2 separate regions of the Homo sapiens genome follow, and region 1 is linked to region 2. The links come from fine-mapping of genetic effects on gene expression. Tissue or cell type: whole blood. Region 2 holds a variant in brackets; the other region holds the start of a gene. Each region is shown on its reference strand, or each on the opposite one. Region 1 holds the start of SPAG8 (sperm associated antigen 8). Region 2 has its middle 12 kb from the start of ATF3.

Region 1 (8,376 bases), not on the chromosome of region 2:
TTGGGGATGCTTACATGGTGGTATCTGGCCTCCCAGGCCGAAATGGTCAACGCCATGCACCAGAAATTGCTCGTATGGCCCTAGCATTACTAGATGCAGTTTCTTCCTTTCGCATCCGCCACCGACCCCATGACCAGCTGAGGCTACGCATAGGGGTCCATACTGGTAAGGCTGACTCTCACTCCAGCCCTAGTCTCCACCTTTCCCAGACTCTCCCAACCTGTTTCTTCTCAAAGGGCCAGTCTGTGCTGGGGTTGTTGGCCTGAAGATGCCCCGTTATTGTCTTTTTGGAGACACAGTGAACACTGCTTCTCGAATGGAGTCTAATGGTCAAGGTAAGACATTAGCCCTCAACCCCACTGTTGGCCTCAATTTATCTTGCCCTTTTCTTCTTTTCATAATCCCTCCAATTTCTTAATCTGAGAGACCACAGTTCCTTAGTGTCGCATCCTCGGGCATATTTTGGTTCTAATAGATATGCATTGGGAGGTTGGGCATATTTTGGTCCTAATAGATATGCATTGGGAGCTTCCCAGGGATGGTTGGTCGGGCACGGTGCTATACAGTATCACCAATTATTTGATTGCCTTTTCTTTGATTCCTCATTCCACCATCCTCCCCATTCCACCCACCCCAGCGCTGAAGATCCATGTCTCCTCTACCACCAAGGATGCCCTAGATGAGCTAGGATGCTTCCAGCTAGAGCTTCGGGGGGATGTGGAAATGAAGGTGATGGCAGGCCATGGGGAGGGGGGCATGGAAAGGGAGGGTGAAAGTGATTATGGGAATCATAGGGAAAGAGAGGGAGACAAAGGGACTAACATCGAAGCATCTGAATCATGTCCACTCTCCCACTTCCAGGGAAAAGGAAAGATGCGAACATACTGGCTCTTAGGAGAGCGGAAAGGACCTCCTGGACTCCTGTAAACCCCCATTCTTTCCAAGTCAGATAGTCTTCTGCTGCTGGTACCTGGGTGGGCAATGGCCACCATGTCTGCACACACCAGAAATGGACATTTTCATATGCAATGGAAAACAGCCACAAAAAAACCTACCTTATATGGAAGTTGTAGCCCTCTGCAGCTCAGCCCTGTACATATACCTGTCCCTCTCTGGCTTGGTCCCCTTCCTCCCTACTTTCTGTAAATATCTGTATCTAAACCAGAATATTTTGGTCAAATATAAAACAATAATAAAAAAAGTTCTGATGTCATAGTGTGGGATAGGGGCAATCCCAAGGAAAGGTTATGGGGTATGCACACAGTGACTCACAGAATCACTAAATTAGCAGTCTTGGGATGAGAGAGAACCCTTTATGTAAAGCCTCTTCAAGTACAGTGAGAATTAACTTCCTCCCGACCTCTCTAGTGCAGACAGAAATAGATTCCATATTCCATACCCCACTTCCCTCCTCACCCCTCAGAAAGGAGTCATTCTCCCCCCTCCACCACCCAGCCTTCCTCCGGGACAGGGAAGGGAAGATATTTCTCCCAATTGGTAGGGGTAATTCTCAGGTTCATAGGGCAAAAGTTTCCCCAGAGACAAGGGTACTGGTGTTGAGAAGCTGCAGTTCTTCCGGAATGGTGTGTCCAATGTCCTGATGTTACTGACACCCTGGAGGAGTGCCAGGATGAGGATGGATCCCACTCTCCCCAAGCCAGAACAAAACAACTCTGCCCTACCTTTCCTGCCCCGCTCTGCCCCCAACACCTAGTCACCCTCACACACCGGCAGCTGTGGTGCCCTCTGTATCCAGAAGGTCTCAGGTTGCTCCTGGCGGTAGTCGTGAGGCTGTGAGGGAGGGTACTGAGTAACTCCTGGCCTTCAGCCCTCTCTCTCAACCTCTGGGCTTGGTACTTGGCCACAGCCTGTCAGAGCCCAGCTGGTGCAAGTGGCGGGGGATGGGGGGTGGGTTCTCACCTTTGTTGGGGCAGGAGTCCCTGCTTGTGCCAGCTCCATTCGGTAGTCATGGTGTGTCACAGACTCAACCTCGAAGAGCTTCCTTGTGGGTTCCTGTTCTGCCTGCACCTCTTTACTATGTAGCCCGAGGGGTGTCAAGGCCATTCTCACCCAATTTTTCTCCTCCCCATCCCTCTTCCCCTTTACCCAATCCCTTACCAGATCTGATGCTGCAGGAGCATCTCCAGCATGGCTTCACGCTTCCCTGTGAGAGAGTTGGGGGGTGGGCAAGGTGGGGTCTGGTTAAGAAGGAGGCCCAGAAGAAACTAACTTGAGAAAAGGAAGAAGAACCTTGGGGTTCCGCCCTTATATCCACTGGAGAATCCACAGCCCCACCAGAAATTCCTTCCTCTTCTTCCCTCTGAGTAATGGGCTCGTTCTGGCCTACCCTCTCACATTTCACACCTCGAAGTGGCCAATAGACGTTTCCTGGTGGCTGGTACGAGTCTTTCTGGGTGGTGCTGGAGGGCATGGGTGACTTTAGTTGCATAGTCAGCAGTCCCCGGTGTCCGTGTCGGAAGAAAAAACTCTCAGAGCCATCCTGCATGCTTGGGACTTGATCCAGGTGGTTGGTGGCTCTCTGTGGATCCCAAGTTGAATGACTATAATATCCCTTCTGGTACCCACCCTCATGTAAACTACTGCCTCCCCTAAGAAACTGAGGGCAGCCTTCAAGAAAAGGGAGCAGGCCAAAACTTTAATACCTCTTCCTCCCAGTTGTAGAGGAGGCACTGGCCCCGCGGCAAAGTTTCATAGCAAACCATAAGCTTCCCTTTAATGTCTGGGGGTTTCCATAGTCCTCGGGCACCCGGTTCTAAGACTTGCAAAAATTCCCAAGGTGGTTGTTTCTGGGGCTCCCAGGGGCAGTGCTGACTCCAGGAGGTATAGTTAGGGACCCGATCTGCCACCAGGTTTCTGAACCCTGGAGGAATACAGGGGCTGAGCTCAGAGTCAGGGCCAGTGTCTGGACCAGGCCCAGAGGCAGGACCAGGATGAGAGCCAGAGCCATGACCAGGACCAGAGCCAGGACCAGAGCCAGGACCAGGACCAGAGCCAGAGCCAGGGACAGAGCCACAGCCAGGACCAGAGCCAGAGCCAGAGCCATGGCCAGCACCTGAGCTGGAACCAAGAACAGGCCCAGAGCTAGAGCCTGGAACAGGGCCAGGATTAGAACTATGGTCAGTTGTAGTGCAAGTGTCCTGAGCAATACAGGAAACATAGACGGGCTCAAAGCCAAGACTCCCATGGGCTATATTGTGGGTAAAGCCGGGTCCCGCACAGGGCTCCCCAAGAAGGCTGGGGTCAGAGGACGGCTCCATGAACTCAGAACAGGGCGCTGGGGTCTTTGTAGATAATGCAGCTGCTTTGGCAGTGGTGAAGGCTGCAGTAGCTGCAGCAGCTGATGCAGCCGCTGCAGCTGCTGCGGTTGCAGCTGCCAGGGCCGACCTGGGACTGTCATCTGAAGAAGGAAACGGTTCCGAAGTGGGCCCCAGTCCTTCGGAGCTGGGCTGTATGTCTAAAGATCTGAAAGAAAGCAAACACGACATGGCTGTCAAAAGCGCAGCAGAGGAAGTCAGCTGACCTTCCTCGTCCCCTTATGCCTGCAGCCAGAGCTGCGGCTCTCACCGCGACCGCGACCGCGATCCCTCCGTAGACTCGTTGGTCTCCATCTTCAGACTCCAGCTACTGGGTTGCCATAGAGACAGCAAACAACTCCTGGAGCCTGCGCAGAAGTACAGCTGGGCGGACTTGCAGGTGGCGGTGGAGGCAAGTCCTCTGCGGGGCGGAAGTCTTCAGCCTAGTGCTGTTAGGGAGGTCCGCTTTCCGGTCCCGGCGGCATTCCGCCTCAGACGGGGTTTTAGGGTTCCGCTGGCTTAAGACCTCGCCCTCCACGTCCAAACAGTCTTTGCGTGCGGTTTTCTAAGATGATGCTTTATGGGGATATGTTGGAAACAGGCACAGGGTTGTGGCATTAGATTACAGCCTACTTGGTGTTTGCTGAGAGGCAAGTAGCTTCCCCTTAGTTTGCTTAGTTCATTCTCAAAAGTGAGTGGGGTCTTTAACAAATGTTAAGGATGAAAATAAACAAACTAGCTTGAGCAAAATGGTGAGACGTAGAATAGTGAAAAGGCAGCCGCTTTTGTTTGGGTGTGATTACTCCTCCTCTAATAAAAGACCCTCATATTGACCACCCTCCTCCTAAGCGCCCTTAGAACCTGGTTTGACCTCTGAAGAAGGGCCAGGATTGGCTTTCAGTTTCTTCCTACTCATTTAGGCTCATTCCTACTGTTACTTTTCTAGAAGCTTGACCTAGGGTGGACCACTTGTCAAGAAGACTTACATATCTGCAGGCAACATTTAACCACAGGTTGGACCTCCTCAGTGTCTTTCACTCAGACCAGTCAAGGGGCATCATAGCCCTGAATCAGTTTTCTTTCCCCTTTGTGGTATAAAATTTTATATTAAAGACAGGAGAGCATAATTAAGGGAGAACAGTTTTATTAGCATCACAGGGTCCATTTTTCCCTTTCCATCCAAGCATCCAGAGTCTGGTGTCCTTTAATCAGTTGGCAGGTTCAACCTGGAGGCCACTGGAGCTGCCGGCCCCCAAGTACATGAATGTGCAGATGATACACAGATTGTGCACCCAGCTTCCCATCGTTGATCACTGAAATTGAGCTTGGGGTTAGGGAGTCAGGATCATGGCAGAGGTCGAAGAATGAAGATCATATTGAGAAGTAGGAATGAGAATTCATAGGTGAGGGACCAAGGGCCAAAAGTCACTCACCAAGTCGGTATCCATCTCCCAGGCCCTCAGCCTTTGCTGTCTGCTTGGCCACAAGGAGTAGGTGTCCTAGAAGCTATAGAGAGAGCGGAGGGACATAGGTGGCTTCATTCATAGGGAGCAAGACCTCTAGCTGGGTCCAGGGGCTCCTCCCAGCCAAACCCTGGCCCTGTTCTTCCCACCTGCTGGTCTTCTTCTTCAGCCTGGCTAATCCGAGGAATGGGCTTCTTAGGAATGACCAGGAAGTGCACAGGAGCCTGAGGGGCCACATCACGGAACACAAGACACTGGGGGAAGTGACAGGCCAGAGGCCACGTTACTTCAACAGGTTGGATGGTATCTACAACATTCCTAAGGGGATAGGTCCTAAGAGCACCCCACCTGCTGGTCCTCATAGAGAATGTCAGCTGGGAGGCTCTTGTCCAGGATCCGGGAGAAGATGGTTGGGGCTGCTCCCCCAGGAGTTGCCTGCTGGGCCTTGGCCACTTCATTCCCATCAGTCACACCTGCAGCTCCTCGGACCTGAAGGTGGATCGACCATATTCAAAGGAGGGAGCTGGCAGAAGCTGGGCTCTGATAGTTGTTAATTTCGTCCTTCTAATAACCTATTCATCGTTCCCACCCAGGAGGAAAGTTCCTGAATTTCAGAGCACCAGCAGCAAAGGGTAGGGCCAGAAGGTGCTGGACCTGGTTAGATAACAGGCGGTATTATTATCAGGATTCAGCAGTGCAATTGATTCCTGCTCATGTGTCCACGAAATATAGCACTGTTTAGGGAAAGGATCTAGAATGAGAGACTGGGGATTTTGGTCTCAGTTCCTACCTTACCATACCACTGAATTACCTCAGATAAATTCCTTCTCTCAGCTTCTAATATAAAATAAAGGGATGGTTTCCATAATCTCTTGCGATGGCTTGAATCTCTTTCCACTCTCACCTTGTTAGTACATTTCCACTTATTTCCGTTACTTGTTTTCTGATCTTTAAGCCTTGTCGCCTGTTTTATTTAAGTTTTAATGCAATCGCCCTGTTTGACACTAGTTGACCCCTCATCTGGGTGTCACATGTGACTCTGTGAATTTTAACTCTTGTCCCTTGAATGAGTGGAGGTAAGAGTTCAGCTAAGTGACCTCTGCTCCCCTAGCCCCAGGGAACTTCGGGTAAGGGATTCAGAGAAGGCTGATGTCATTGCATCACGTTGGGGGAGAACGGGACGGAATGAATTCTCTGACCTCCGAGCCGCTTCTGGCAAGTGCAGAAGAGAGGTTAACACTAGTGCTCATTAGGAGGCCAGAAGCCTGAGGAGGGCAGAGCACTGGCTCCAAGAAGAGAAAGCTCATTTCCTGCAGGGGGCATCGGGCCAGCTGGGCTGCAGGCAGTGGAAAGAAGGCGGCAGCCGCTGCACTGACCCTGTCCCGACCTCGGCGCCCCGGCCTGCGCAGGGCGGGAATCAGCACCAGCTCGTTCTCCGGAGCCACCAGTTCGACCTCACCACACAGCCCCGGAGCTTGTGCCTCGGAGGGGCAGAGGCCACAGGCAGGAGCTCTGCGCGGCTCTGCGCGCCTTCGGGACCCCCTGGCCCCGGATGGCTTCGGAGCCCGCAGGACCCCCTACTCGCTCCCGCGCCACTTCTCACCTGCCCCCCGCGCACCCCCGTGGCCGCCACGGCTCTGCGCGCCGCGCGCAACCCAGCAGCCAGCACCACGGCTGCCGCCATCTTCCCTGAGCCGCGGGAACCTCTCACCCGGGTCAGCACTCGGCTCCGCGGCCGGCCGTGGGTGGGGACTCCGGGCGCGGGGAAGCGGGGTAGTGGCGGCCGGGCGAGCCCTGCTACCCCATTGGAGCGCGCCTCTGAGCACGATTCACCCCATTGCCTCTGCAGCCACTTTGGAGGCGGGCTCTTTTCATCTCATTGGCTGCTTCTACCAACGCGAGGACAATTTTCCATTCCATTGGTTTCGTCTTCTAGTCCGTGTGAACGTTCTTTTCCCATTGGATCCCCTTACTAGTTTCTCTGTGAGAGAAACTTCCACTCCATTGGAAGGATTAATGGAGCCTGGAGGTGGGATTTTCTCCTAGTTGAATCTGATACACAACTCTGGCTTCTAGGTTGCGGCTCCCGAGTGGGTGGTTCTTTTCGTTCTTGGTTCGTCCTCTTCAGGTCTGGTTCCTATTGGTGCGCGGGGAGAAGGGGGCGGGGCTCCGCCACCTGCTGCAGAAAGGGCTGTTTTAGACCCTCTCACCGCTTTGGCCAGGAGGAGGGCGGGGCTCTGAGGGCATCCGGCGCTTATTGGCTCCAAGAACCACCCGGGGTGGGGCTAAAGGTGAACGGGGATGAGGTGTGTTTTTTTGTGTTTGTTTGTTTGTTTTAACTGGCGGGGCTGATGCGCAGCATTTTCTCCACAAGGGCAGTTTCAGTCCCTTGAGCATTTTGGAGATTTTAATGTACTTATCTAAGGGAAATTCTTCCTTAATTCTATGTTCTTGTTAACGCATTCACTCCATAGATTAAAAAGTCTGTGGTTTTTGCATTTTTTTTTTTTGAGCAGGAGGAGATAAGAGTGTCCTATATTTGCCGCACAAGAATTATAATAAGCAAAGGAGTATGTATTCATTGTTCTTTTCTAATCGGAAAAGGTGTGTGATACAGTTAGCTCGGTGCCTGGTGTTTTCTTTTTTTTTCTTTTTTTCTTTTTTCTTTTTTTTTTTTTTTGAGACGGAGTCTCGCTCTGTCGCCCAGGCTGGAGTGCAGTGGCGCGATCTCGGCTCACTGCAAGCTCCGCCTCCCGAGTTCACGCCATTCTCCTGCCTCAGCCTCCCGAGTAGCTGGGACTACAGGCACCCGCCACCACGCCCGGCTAATTTTTTGTATTTTTATTAGAGACGGGGTTTCACCGTGTTAGCCAGGATGGTCTCGATCTCCTGACCTCGTGATCCTCCTGCCTCGGCCTCCCAAGGTGCTGGGATTACAGGTATGAGGCACCAATAAGTCAGGTTTGCACTGCTGGAATATATATTTTTGACATAAGAAACGTGGGGTCACAAAATACTAATATTCTCAGACGCTAGGTAAGTTTTAGTCTGATATCACATAGGACAAGTTACCACTGTTTCTTTGGTTTTTCTTTTTTTCTTTTTTTTTTTTTTAAACACATGACCTGATACATATAGGTGGTCAGTAATTGTTGAATGAATAACATTTGGTGTTTCCTGTCTTTTTTTCATAATATGTAATATGTATTGCATATGATACTAACCCATGTGTAATCAATTTTTCATATTTTTACAGTCTACGTAAATATAGTTTGTATTGGCTGCTTATTATTTCCTTCAATGAGTTTATCATAGTAATCCTAACTCTATTGTTGACTATTAGTTGAATTAGTTTTAGGTGAATGGTTATCATGGGGCATATAACCACTGTTGGGGAACTTTGCTTCTAGAGATATAACAATCTCTTTTGTATAGCTATATTATTGTTAGAAAATCCTTTCTCCTCTAAAGGGCAGACATTTGATTCTGTGATTTTCCCCAGGGATCCTAGCAGTCCAGATTGCATTCCTTCCCTTGGAGGAACAGATGGCCCCCCTAATTGTGAGGAAATGTAGAATGGCCTCTTCTCTGGGCCCCAG
Region 2 (11,280 bases):
TGGCTTATGTCTGTGGGAAAAATATAATCCAGAAGCTCAGGAAACCAGTTGAGAAGGTCATTGAGATGTTCTGGCAAGAGCAGAGGTCAGGATGTAGTTTTGAAAATGTAAGTGCTCTTTAGACACTCGATGGCCAAGGATTGGCCATGGGGAATGCTCTCCATCCCCCCCGCCCCAGTCCATTGTGTGCACTCTTCCAATCAGCTGGGCTCAGCTACGTTTGTGGGCAGATTTGCACTGTATTCATTTATCCTTGATAGTAAGGCATTCTGCAGTCATTTTTAAACTTTTTAATCATGGGAATTTGCAAACGTACACATATAAATCCTCATATACCTGAAATCCAGCTTTAACGATTATCAATACTTTGCCAATCTTATCTCATCTCCCCTTCCGCACACTTTTCTTTTATGGGGTGGTAGGGTAGGATGGGCATTTTTTAAATTTTTATTTATTTATTTATTTTTTGAGAAAGGGTTTCATTCTGCTGCCCAGGGTGGAGTGCAATGGAGCGATCTCGGATCACTGCAACCTCCGCCGGGTGGGAGTATTTTAAAGCAAATCATAGGCATCGCAGAGTATGTTTCTAACAGATAAGGACTTCTTTTAAAATTGCGGTACAAAGTACATAACATAAAATGTTCTATTTTAACCATTTGCAAGTGTACAATTCAGTGGCATTAAGTACCTTCACACTGTGTGCAACCATCACCACCATCTGTCTCCAGAACATTTGCATCATAAACTGAAACTCTGTACCCATTAAACAATAACTCCTCATTTCTCCCTCAACCTAGCCCCTAGTAACCACTATTCTACTTTCTGTCTCTGAATTTGACCATTCCAGACACTTCATCTAAGTGAAATCATACAGCATTTTTAAAAATCTGGTTTATTTCACTCATGTTTTCAACGTTCATCTAAGTATTTTATTCCTTTTAAAGACTGATAAGGGCTTTTAAGATAATAATCACAACATATCTAAAAAATTTAATAATAATTTTCTAATATCATCGAATTAGCTAATCTATGTTCACGTTTCCAAAAGTATGTCTTTAAATGTCATTTTACAGTTAGACAGAATCAGGATCCTAACAAGGTCCACACATTATATTTGGTTGATATGTCTCTTAAGTCTATTTTAACCTACCATATTCTTTCTCCTTATTTTTCATGCTATTTATTTGTTGAAGAAATGAGTTAATTTGTCCTGTAGAATTTCCCTCATTCTGGATTTGGCTGATTACATCCTCAGCATTGTTTAACCATTTCCTCTATCCTCTGAATTTCACAAAAACAAATGGTCAGATCTAGGGGCCGGATTGCATTCAGGTTCAACTACTTTGGTGGGCTGTGTGCTTTCTATTACATCACAGCAAGAGGCCCTTGTATCTGATGGTCTCACTTCTTGAGATAGTAAAACAGATCTGTGGGTTTGGGTGCTGCCAGCCCGATACATCCATTGATAACATGGCATTTAAAGATAAGTGTTCTTGGTAAGAGTGGCAATTCCTCAGGGTTCTAGAACTAGAAATACCATTTGACCCAGCCATCCCATTACTGGGTATATACCCAAAGGAATATAAATCATGCTGCTATAAAGACACATGCACATGTATGTTTATTGTGGCACTATTCACAATAGCAAAGACTTGGAACCAACCCAAATGTCCAACAGTGATAGACTGGATTAAGAAAATGTGGCCCATATACACCATGGAATACTATGCAGCCATAAAAAAATGAAGAGTTCATGTCCTTTGTAGGGACATGGATGAAACTGCAAACCATCATTCTCAGCAAACTATCACAAGGATGAAAAACCAAACACCGCATGTTCTCACTCATAGGTGGGAATTGAACAGTGAGAACACATGGACACAGGAAGGGGAACATCACACACCGGAGACTGTTGTGGGGTGGGGGGAGGGGGTAGGGATAGCATTAGGAGATATACCTAATGCTAAATGACGAGTTAATGGGTGCAGCACATCAACATGGTACATGTATACATATGTAGCAAAACTGCACATTGTGCACATGTACCCTAAAACTTAAAGTATAAAAAAAAAAAGTGTTCTTGGGTGTGGTGGCTCATACCTGTAACCATAGCACTTTGAGAGGCTGAAGTGGGAGGGTGGCTTGAGCCCAGGCATTCAAGACCAGCCTGGGCACCAAAGTGAGATCATCTGTACTAAAAAAAAGAAAATTAAAAAATTAGCCAGGCATGGTGGCATGTGCCTGTAGTCCCAGCTATTTGGGAGGCTGAGGCTAGAGGATCACTTGAGCCCAGGGGATCAAGGCTGCAGTGAGCTATGATTGCCCTAATGCACTCCAGCCTGGATGATAGAGAGAGACCCTGTCTCTTTAAAAAAAAAAAAAAAAAAAAAAAAAGTGTTCTTAAGACTTTGTAAATGATTGTAAGCATACCTATGTGTCTGTGTCTCTATTTATATCAGTCACCATTCTTAGCCCTAGGGCTGTCTTTATTTTTCTGTAGATCTTTAAAACTCCCCAAAGTCCCTGTTCAATCTGTGATGTTGAGTAGCCACTCCTGGAATTCTTGAGCTCTCAGATTTCATGTAAGATAGCACCCTATTTCCAATTAGTCCTTGAGTTGCCTGCACATGGGTGCTCACTCAGAGTCACACACATCCACCTGGAAGGAATCATCACCCACCTGCCTTGGTAGCCTGTTCCAATGTCTAAGCACTCCCAGAGCATAAGTCTTCCCTCTGTCTGGTCTAGCCCTCCCTGTGAAGTTAAATTCTGTTTCCTCCAGTTCGGGGCTCGGTGGAGCTGACGAGCAGCTGGCCAGCAGCCCCTGCAGATGAGGCCTGGGGAAATGATGCATGAGGCTAAGACACATTCCAGGTAGTCTACATGCTTCATGAATTTAATGGAAGACTGGCAAGGACTAGAATATGTTTTATTGCAACTTTCTAGCTGGGATTCATTATTTTTCTTTTAAAATTAAATACAAATAACTTATTTCTAAAAAGTAAATATTCAGAGACTATGAATGAAACAAACAAACAAAAAAGAAAACAAAAAACCTAACAATTTTCCAGAGTTGGCATTGTGCTTATTTTGTGCCTTTATAGATGAACAGAGTCCTACTGGTGTCAGATTTAAAAAGTCACTCTACCTCTTAAACATTTTGCCTTATTAGGGTGGAAGGGTCAAAGAGCAAGGAGGGAGAAGACAGAGCAGAGACACAGGGCAGAAGAGTCTCAGATGAGGGTGGCAGGGGTACAAGAGAGCCTGGGTCTATAGACAGAAACAGAGCATGTTGCTGAAACTGCCCAGACTCTTTATTTCAATCTCCAGTCTGTAAAATGGAGATGAAGCGCCCCGCCTGATCCCTTTTTAGGGTTGTGGGAGATGCAGAGGAGCTAATGGGTGTGAATGTGCTTTGTGGGCTGAAGCTACTGGGCCCCTTACAGGCCTACAGGTCAGGGGAAAGAAGAGAGTGTTGCCAGCACCTGTGAGCAGAATTAACCCATTGGCTGATTGCCTGGCCACCTGGACTTAGCATGTATTGAACTGAATACATGTGCAGGGGCTCACAGCCATTCCGATTCTAAAGACTGGTTAAGTTTCACAACAAAAACTGAGGATAATTGCAGGGTTGTCAATTATTGTTTTGCCATCTACTATTACAGTTATATTTATTTAAAAAGTAAAAGGATATTTTAATAATATCTCAACCACTGAGGATGGTAAGATGAGCAAAATAGGATACCCACTCCCAAGGAGTTCATAAAACTGTAGGGAAACACATGTATAAAAATATGTATATAAAGACCAAATAGATGTGTAGCCCCTAGGACTCTTTGGCTCGTTAGAAAAAACAGTACAAAATGGCTTAACAAAAAGTGGAGATTTGCCGGTTCATATAGCTGAAAACTCTGCAGAAAGTGTGGCTGCCACCCAGCTTGATATAGAGCCTCTTGGCTCTAACCTTTTTCTCCAGTTGCCCATGGCAACCTCAGCAGCCCCAGGCTACAGCCCCCTGCCTTCAAGTCCAGCTAGTGAGCTGCCTCCAGCAGCCCCAGCCCGGTGCTCCCGCAGCTCAGTGGCTCTACATGGATCCTGAGCCCCTTCCTGGACCAACCACAGTGGTCCCTGGCCTGGTTTGCTCTGACTGGTCACCCAATGCACAGGGACCGGAAATGTGCGGGGAGTGGCTTTCTCGGACGAAAACTGGGAAACCATTACTCGAATTGGGATGGATAGATGCTGAATGGCCAAGAAACAAAAATATCCTCTAAGAACTATGGGAACACAGAAAAGGTGCGTCCACGGCTAGCCTCATAAGCCGGATGACCTGTTCAGTCCCACCCTTAACAAGTTTCACATTGGCTTAATGCTCTGCTGTCACTGACTCAACATTCTTAATAATTTCTGAACAAGGGGCTCCACATTTGCGTTTGGTAATAGGCCCCACTAATTACATGGCTAGTCCTAGAGGTGACTAACATTATATTACCTACACAAGGAAGTGACTTTGAAACTGGATTTTGAAAGATATAATGAAACAGCAGTTTTGTAAATGGAAAGGTTTGGGTGGCAGGAGGAGGAGGAAATTCCATCATAGGCAAGAATGTTAGACGTGAGAGGCTTGATGAGAAAATGAAACCACTAGCGCCTCAAGTGGTTGGGGCTTAAAGTGACTGTGGGGTGTGGCCCCAGTGGAGTGGGAACAAAATATTCCTTCGATGAATTAATATTCCTTCAATGAATTAATAAACACAAGTGAAGTGAAATTTAACATGAGAAAAAATAGTTTATATTTTTTAAACCTCCATGATTCCAAATGGCCGTTACAAGATAACTCCTATTTTCCACCTCACTTTTCTACTGCACACTAAGGCTAACTTTCCCCTGTGTAACATAAGTGCCTACTGATCTTTATCACTAGCGTGTTAGCAAGGTTAGCATTCCACTTCTGTGATTTCACCATCCAAATATTTATGAATCAGAGAGATGTTTCTAAGAACATGTTTTCCAATTGTTTACTTTATAACAATAATAGTGTGCTTTAATTACAAAGATGACGTTTTACAACCTAAATAGAACAAGCCTCAGTTGTGTGGGAGTTCATTGCTTTGGTGATAAAAGAGAAACACAGACAGTGACTCAGGTGGAACATTCGTTTCATTTTCACTTTGTGTTTCCTTTGGTTCTACATGTCAGGACATGTAACAGAGCCAAGGCAGAAGAGTGCTGTGGGGGGTGTGAAAGTTAAAGCTAAGGCTCTATATGCCAGAAAGAAAGGACAATGTCCCCTCTCACCCACTGGCTCCCCTTTCAAGGCCAATGCCAAGGGGGAAAAAGAAGGTGGCTTCCCTCTGGCACATGAATGGTGAGCTAGTTAACAGTCAGTGTTTTGTTCCCAAATTCTTTAAAGGAATGCTGAAGAGATAACACTGGTTCTTCTGAATTGAGAATCTCTTTGAATTCCCACTGCTGTCTTATTTCCATTTAAATTAAGCTTAAGAGGAGAAATTAATGTTGGGGTATCTGCTAAGTGCCCAGTGTGGAGCCTCTTTCTGTCTTGTTCATTCTTGGATGTCCAGCTCTTGAACAATGCCAGGCATACAGTAGGCACTCAATACATACACGAGGAATGAGTGTATGAATTTATTCCTCACAGCACTTTTATGTGAGGAAGATGCGGGGGCAATCTTCAGATAAGAAAATAGACATTAAGTGTTGGAAATTGAGAGAAAGAGGTGGTTTGTCCAGCAAGGCATGTCCAACACAGACAGAGACAATATGGGGCCTCCTCGGTGACTCACTTTTATGTGACTAGGTATGTGTCTCTTCTGTAGAAACTTGGTCAATAGGGAATGACGACAAGAAAAAAGGGGCCCTTAGAAAATAATATCACCATCATGATCATCATCTTCATCATCGACTGTAGACACAGCGCTTATAATCACAAAATTGAAGAACTGTAAGGAATTTCAGAATTTATAATAATAGAAGCTCCCATTTACTAATGTGTTGTTATATTCTGGGTACTGAGTTACATCTATTTATCTATCTATCTATCTATCTATCTATCTATCATCTATCTCTCTATCTAGCTAGCTATCCATCCATTCATCTATCTAGCAATCATCTATCTTTTCACCCCCTGCCCCATATCAACCCTGCAAGGTGGGTCGTATTAGCTTTATGTTCAATGTTCCAGGCCAGTAAGTGGCAGAGGTTGAGACTCTTGCTGCCTTCTGGAGCCCTTCCCTTAGCACAGCCTCCTTGACTAACACAGGAGGAATTTGACCCTCAGAGAGGGACCTCAGGTTTCTCAGCTAGTGCAGAACCAGAACTTGAACCTTGGCCCGAGTGTTGTTTCCACTTACCACAGTGTTCTCAGTGTAGATGAGTACACTTTGGATTTCTTTCCGTTTCGCTTATATAAGTCACTATGAGGTTTAGCAGGACAAAAACTGAGCTTATTGAAGATTAATTCATCATTCCATCTCCTACCTTAGAAACAATTTTATTCTTTCCTGGATTCCATCTCAGCCCCTGGCACATGGTAGGCATTCAAGGAGTGCTTGATACATAATTAAGCCAGGATTTGATTTGGATGGAATCTCAGTCTTAGGTACCCCTTAATGGCAGGACTGGAAAAAAGTAGGCAAATACACTCTTCGAAAGACACACAGTAATATTAGTTTTTGCCTTCATGAAAGTTTATACTTTCATCTTTTAAGAATTAACACATCCGCACTATAGAACAATGGGATAATTCAGAAATATATAAGTAGAAGAGAAAAAAAGTTACCCACCCATACTTCCAACAACTAAATACTTTTAATATTTTATGGAAATTTCTTTATTTCCCTTATTCTA[C/T]GTATTTTGTTGTTTATTTATAGCTTTTATTGAGTTATGATTGTTCTGTGTTGATATATATCTTACTTTTTAAAATTTATTTATTTTTAACTTTTATGGGTACATAGTAAGTGTGTATGTTTATGGGGTACATGAGATACTTTGATACAGGCATGCAAGATGGAATAATCACATCTTGGGAAATGGGGTATCCATCCCCTTAAGCATTTATCCTTTGTATCTCAATCCAATTATACTCTTCTAGTTATTTCTAAATGTACAAGCAAATTATTTTGACTACAGTCACCTTGCGGTGCTATCAATAGTAGGTCTTATTCATTCTAACTATTTTTTTGTAACCCATTAACCATCCTCACCTTCCCCCACCCCCATTACCCTTCCCAGCCTCTGGTAACCATCCTTCTACTCTTTGTGTCCATGGGTTCAATTGTTTTATTTGTAGATCCTGCAAATACGTGAGAACATATGATGTTTGTCTTTCTGTGCCTGGCTTATTTCACCTAACATAAAGACCTTCAGTTTCATCCATGTTGTTGCAAATGACAGTATCTCATTCTTTTTTATAACTGAATAGTACTCCACTGTGTATAAGTACCACATTTTCTCTATGCATTCATCTGTTGATGGACACTTAGGTTGCCTCCAAATCTTGGCTACTGTGAACAGAGCTGCAACAAACATGGGAGTGCAGATATCTCCTTGATATACTCATTTCCTTTCTTTTGGGTATATACTCAGCAGTAGGATTGCTGGATCATATGGTAGCTCTACTTTTGGTTTTTTGAGGAGCCTCCAAACTGTTTTCCATAATGGCTGTACTAATTTACATTCTCACCAACAGTGTACGAGGGTTAACTTTTCTGCACATCCTCACCAGCATTTGTTATTGTCTGTCTTTTGGATAAAACCATTTTAACTGGGGTGAGATGATATGTATCTTGCATTTAAAACCCACATTATCTCTACAGCATTCCCTAAGTTGTAATCTCTTTGTGAATATCTTTTAAAATAGTGGCATAGCACTGAAAAAAGACTTGTTTAAATAAGTGTCTAGTTTGTCAGTTCTCAACTATGTCAGGCTGAGGATCATTGGCTTTTCCTGGTTCTTGAGGGACCATTTCTGGTCTTCATTAATCACTTTATCAGAAAGCTAGCTGGAATAAATATTGTTATCCAAAGCCTGAGGGAAAGCATAAATTACAGCTGTGAACCAGTGAGGTAGATTTTCATGGTACTTGGTAATTATCCGTAAATTTCCAATAATCCACACTGACTCCTACATTATGCCTTAGGCCCCAACCTGGCTCTTCTTCCTCCCTCTCTCTCCTCTCTCCTCTGAGTCTTTCCATTACTTTGATATCCCCAACATGCTGATGGCTAGGGGCCATTCCCTTCTTTGACATCCCACTGCTAAGCATTTTGTCCCGAAATGCCCTTATTAGTCTTTTCCCACTTCTACTGCCTACAATACCCAATCAGTTCCTTCCCACCCCAATGCTATGCTCTATAACATCTGAGATAGGGGCATTCCTCCCCTCTCCATCTATCCTAACACCAAGCTTCTGCCAAAATCCAAAGATGTCTGCCTAGAAGTTTCCCAAAATCATCCCCTCCTGTTCTCCTTACCAGCCCTGCCTCAGGTGAGGCAACACTGCTGTACTCCCAAGACTGATCAGATGCCTGCTTAGGGTACCTGTAATGGGGAGGGCCCCCGAAAGTGAGGGAAGCTCAGTTTTAATAAAGCAATCCTGAATTTTGCAATGAAAAGATCCAGGGGAAAAAGGCTATTTTAATTTCAGTACACATAAGAGCATTGTGTTTTGTGAATAATTTTTATTTTGAGTGAACAACATACGAGAGTGGGGATACCACCATCTTCACAGTTCATCTGGCCTCCGATGGCCTCACCTGACCAGTGTTGCAGCCTCCTGATGGCCCTCCATGGGCATCTTCCTCTCCCATCCAGCCCACCCTCAGCCCTCTACCAGCAGTCTTCCTGAAAAACATCTGTTTGTGTCCATCTGCCACTGACAGACCCCCTCCCTTTGTCCCTGGGGACAGAGTCCAAACTGATTATTACATCTTCAAAGGCTATCACAGTCTGTTCTTCCCAGACTTGCTTCCCTAACGTCTCCTCCCTTCCACAAATACTCCTGCTCAGCAATTGCCTCACTGTTCTCCAAACACTGTGCATGTTCTCTCCATTCCGTATTTTCATCCACTGAATGCGTATTCACTGTGGGTCTGGCATGTGCCTGGAACTGTGCAAAGAGCTGGAAATAAGGACAGAGATGAGCAGGGCACAGCCCCTTCCTGGCACTCACAGCCTCTTCATATGACTTTCTCTATGCCTGGAATGCCTGTCCACTTCCCTTGCCTAGAAAACGGTCGGCTCAACATCCAGCTCGACAGTCACCTCAGCCATCAGCTCTTGCCAGCTTTCCTGGGCAGAGCCGTCCTGCCCCACTTTAGCCCTTGCTGCATCAGGCTGTAACTATTTGTTATCAAGTCTGTCTCCCCATGGGCTGTGAGCACCTGGAAGGCAGATATGCATCACTGTGTACCTGCAGCTTCTGACACGGTATCCAGCATATAGTTGGTGCTCGTTAAAATGTTGGAGGACTAAACATACATACATATATATATAGTATATATATAAAATACCTACTATATTGCTGGACTTCTGCTTCATGTATATTAATTTGCCACCTAAACAAGATTTTTAACTCTTCAGGTCAAGAAATGCTCTTATATTGTCCTTGTAACCCCAAGGTGTCTAAGTAGACTGCTGAGAGCAGTGTCCGGTAATAGGACACAATTTGATGCATTGATTGATAGGCATAAACTCACTGGAGTGACTCACTTTGCCCTCAGCCACTCTAGTTTCAAGTACAAGTTCATCATCTGATGATTCAAGTTCATCGTATTTTGGGAAAAGAATAAAAGTCCAAAAAGCCCTACTCAGTTTACTCAGTCAATAACAGGGCTTATGTTTGTGGTTAAAGCAAATTATGAAATAATTGCAAATTTGGCAGGGGGGAAAGTATCCCTGAGGGCACAGGGATCTGGAATTTATTAAGCATGTATCCTCTGGGACATCAGGAGTAAGAATTTTCTGGTAAGGTCAACTCTAGAAGCATCTGTGCATTCAGCAAGACTTTGGTAAAGCGAGGGTGCTCATTTTCAACAAGGTAGGGAAGGCTAAAGAAAAGTAAACACACATCATGCTCTCTAAGATTTTGAGGACAGTATCGCTTAATGTAAGTTTTGAAATAAGTTAGATTTGTGTTTAAATCAAGTACCTATGAGCAATTTTCTTAACCTTTCTGTGCTTTGGTTTCCTCATCTGTAAAACCGAGATAAAAAACCTACCTCACAGGTTATTATAAGGATGAAATAAGATACTGGGTATTTTTAAAAGTGCTTACTATTGTGCCTGGCATGTAGTATGTGCTCAGTAAATAGTAATTACTAAATAGGACCTGGCCACACATCAAGTTTTTTTAAATTTGTTTTAAAATCAGTCAGTAAGCCAGCCTGAGAGATGGAACTTTCCATGAGGGTCTAGACACTTTGGTGTCTCAGGTTTCCATATGACTTGGTAGCTTCAAGGGTAAGGCGTGAAGAGGGAAAAAAGCAATATTTATTGAATGTCACTTTTGAGGGTGAATTGTTTTTTAATTTTGGGGGGTATATAGTAGGTGTATATATTTATTGGGCATGTGAGATATTTTGATACAGGCATACAATGTATAATAAAGGTGTATTGTTCCTTAATCCCATGATTAAGGAAACAGATATAAATGAGGAAACAGACATTATCCTCATTTTACAGGAGAAACTGAGGTTATAAGACCTTCTTAAAACTAAATAAGCAGTGGCAGAAAGAGGATTTGAACTCAGTTCTATCTGACCACAGGTTCTTTCTGCCATCCCTGGCTTCTACCCTACACCATCCCCTTTTCAGCCCCAAGGATAGTATGCCTTGCCAGCCACTAGCTAAGGTGCCCCTAAAATGTTTTAGGGTGCTCTTCTTACAATCAGCTTTTTTCACCTTGGCCCTATTCTTAGCAAAAGCAGCATCTCCCCAGGTGGAGGGCAAAAAAGGGGTTCACGAGTCTCAATGGCTGCTAAGGTTCCTTTCGGTATGAGAATTTATGATTCTGACACGATGTAGAGCCACATTTTTCTCTGTAAGCTCAGTTTCCTCATCCATCAAAGGAGGGCCCTGAACTGCATCAGAGCATCCCAAGTTTCCCGTGAGCACTTGCCAGGAGGTGGTAGGTATCGTGGTTGCGCACTCAGACTTGGGAGTCAGACTGCCTGGGTTGAGTCCTGCTCTACTGCTCACTAGCTAGGTAACTTCTGGCAAGTTATTTACCCTGTCTGTGCCTCAGTTTCCTCATCTATAAA

The links.
Region 1: it holds the start of SPAG8, and the variant in region 2 is fine-mapped to the expression of SPAG8 in whole blood (TOPMed, PIP above 0.99).

Annotation. Positions count from the first base shown.
Region 1 is chr9:35,808,519-35,816,894 of GRCh38, forward strand. SPAG8 (sperm associated antigen 8) reads right to left here and starts at 3,744. Exons shown (of 7, transcript NM_001039592.2): 1 at 3,586-3,744; 2 at 2,664-3,483; 3 at 2,365-2,539; 4 at 2,119-2,164; 5 at 1,921-2,035; 6 at 1,729-1,791; 7 at 1,277-1,614. The coding sequence starts at 3,629. The coding sequence ends at 1,420. NPR2 (natriuretic peptide receptor 2) reads left to right here. Exons shown (of 22, transcript NM_003995.4): 19 at 1-165; 20 at 237-335; 21 at 638-729; 22 at 862-1,213. The coding sequence ends at 927. It overlaps HINT2 (histidine triad nucleotide binding protein 2), which reads right to left and starts at 6,524. Exons shown (of 5, transcript NM_032593.3): 1 at 6,381-6,524; 2 at 5,126-5,266; 3 at 4,927-5,031; 4 at 4,748-4,820; 5 at 4,442-4,627. The coding sequence starts at 6,461. The coding sequence ends at 4,536. It overlaps FAM221B (family with sequence similarity 221 member B), which reads right to left. Exons shown (of 7, transcript NM_001012446.4): 7 at 7,873-8,376. RefSeq lists enhancers at 3,262-3,818, 3,513-3,562, 6,717-6,896 and silencers at 6,337-6,656, 6,987-7,166.
Region 2 is chr1:212,591,375-212,602,654 of GRCh38, forward strand. It overlaps a transcript of ATF3 not described here. Among named protein-coding and RNA genes, the nearest start is that of ATF3, 12 kb to the right of the region's middle. RefSeq lists enhancers at 4,509-5,708, 4,870-5,349, 4,973-5,267. The variant C/T (reference allele first, on the strand shown) is at 6,868.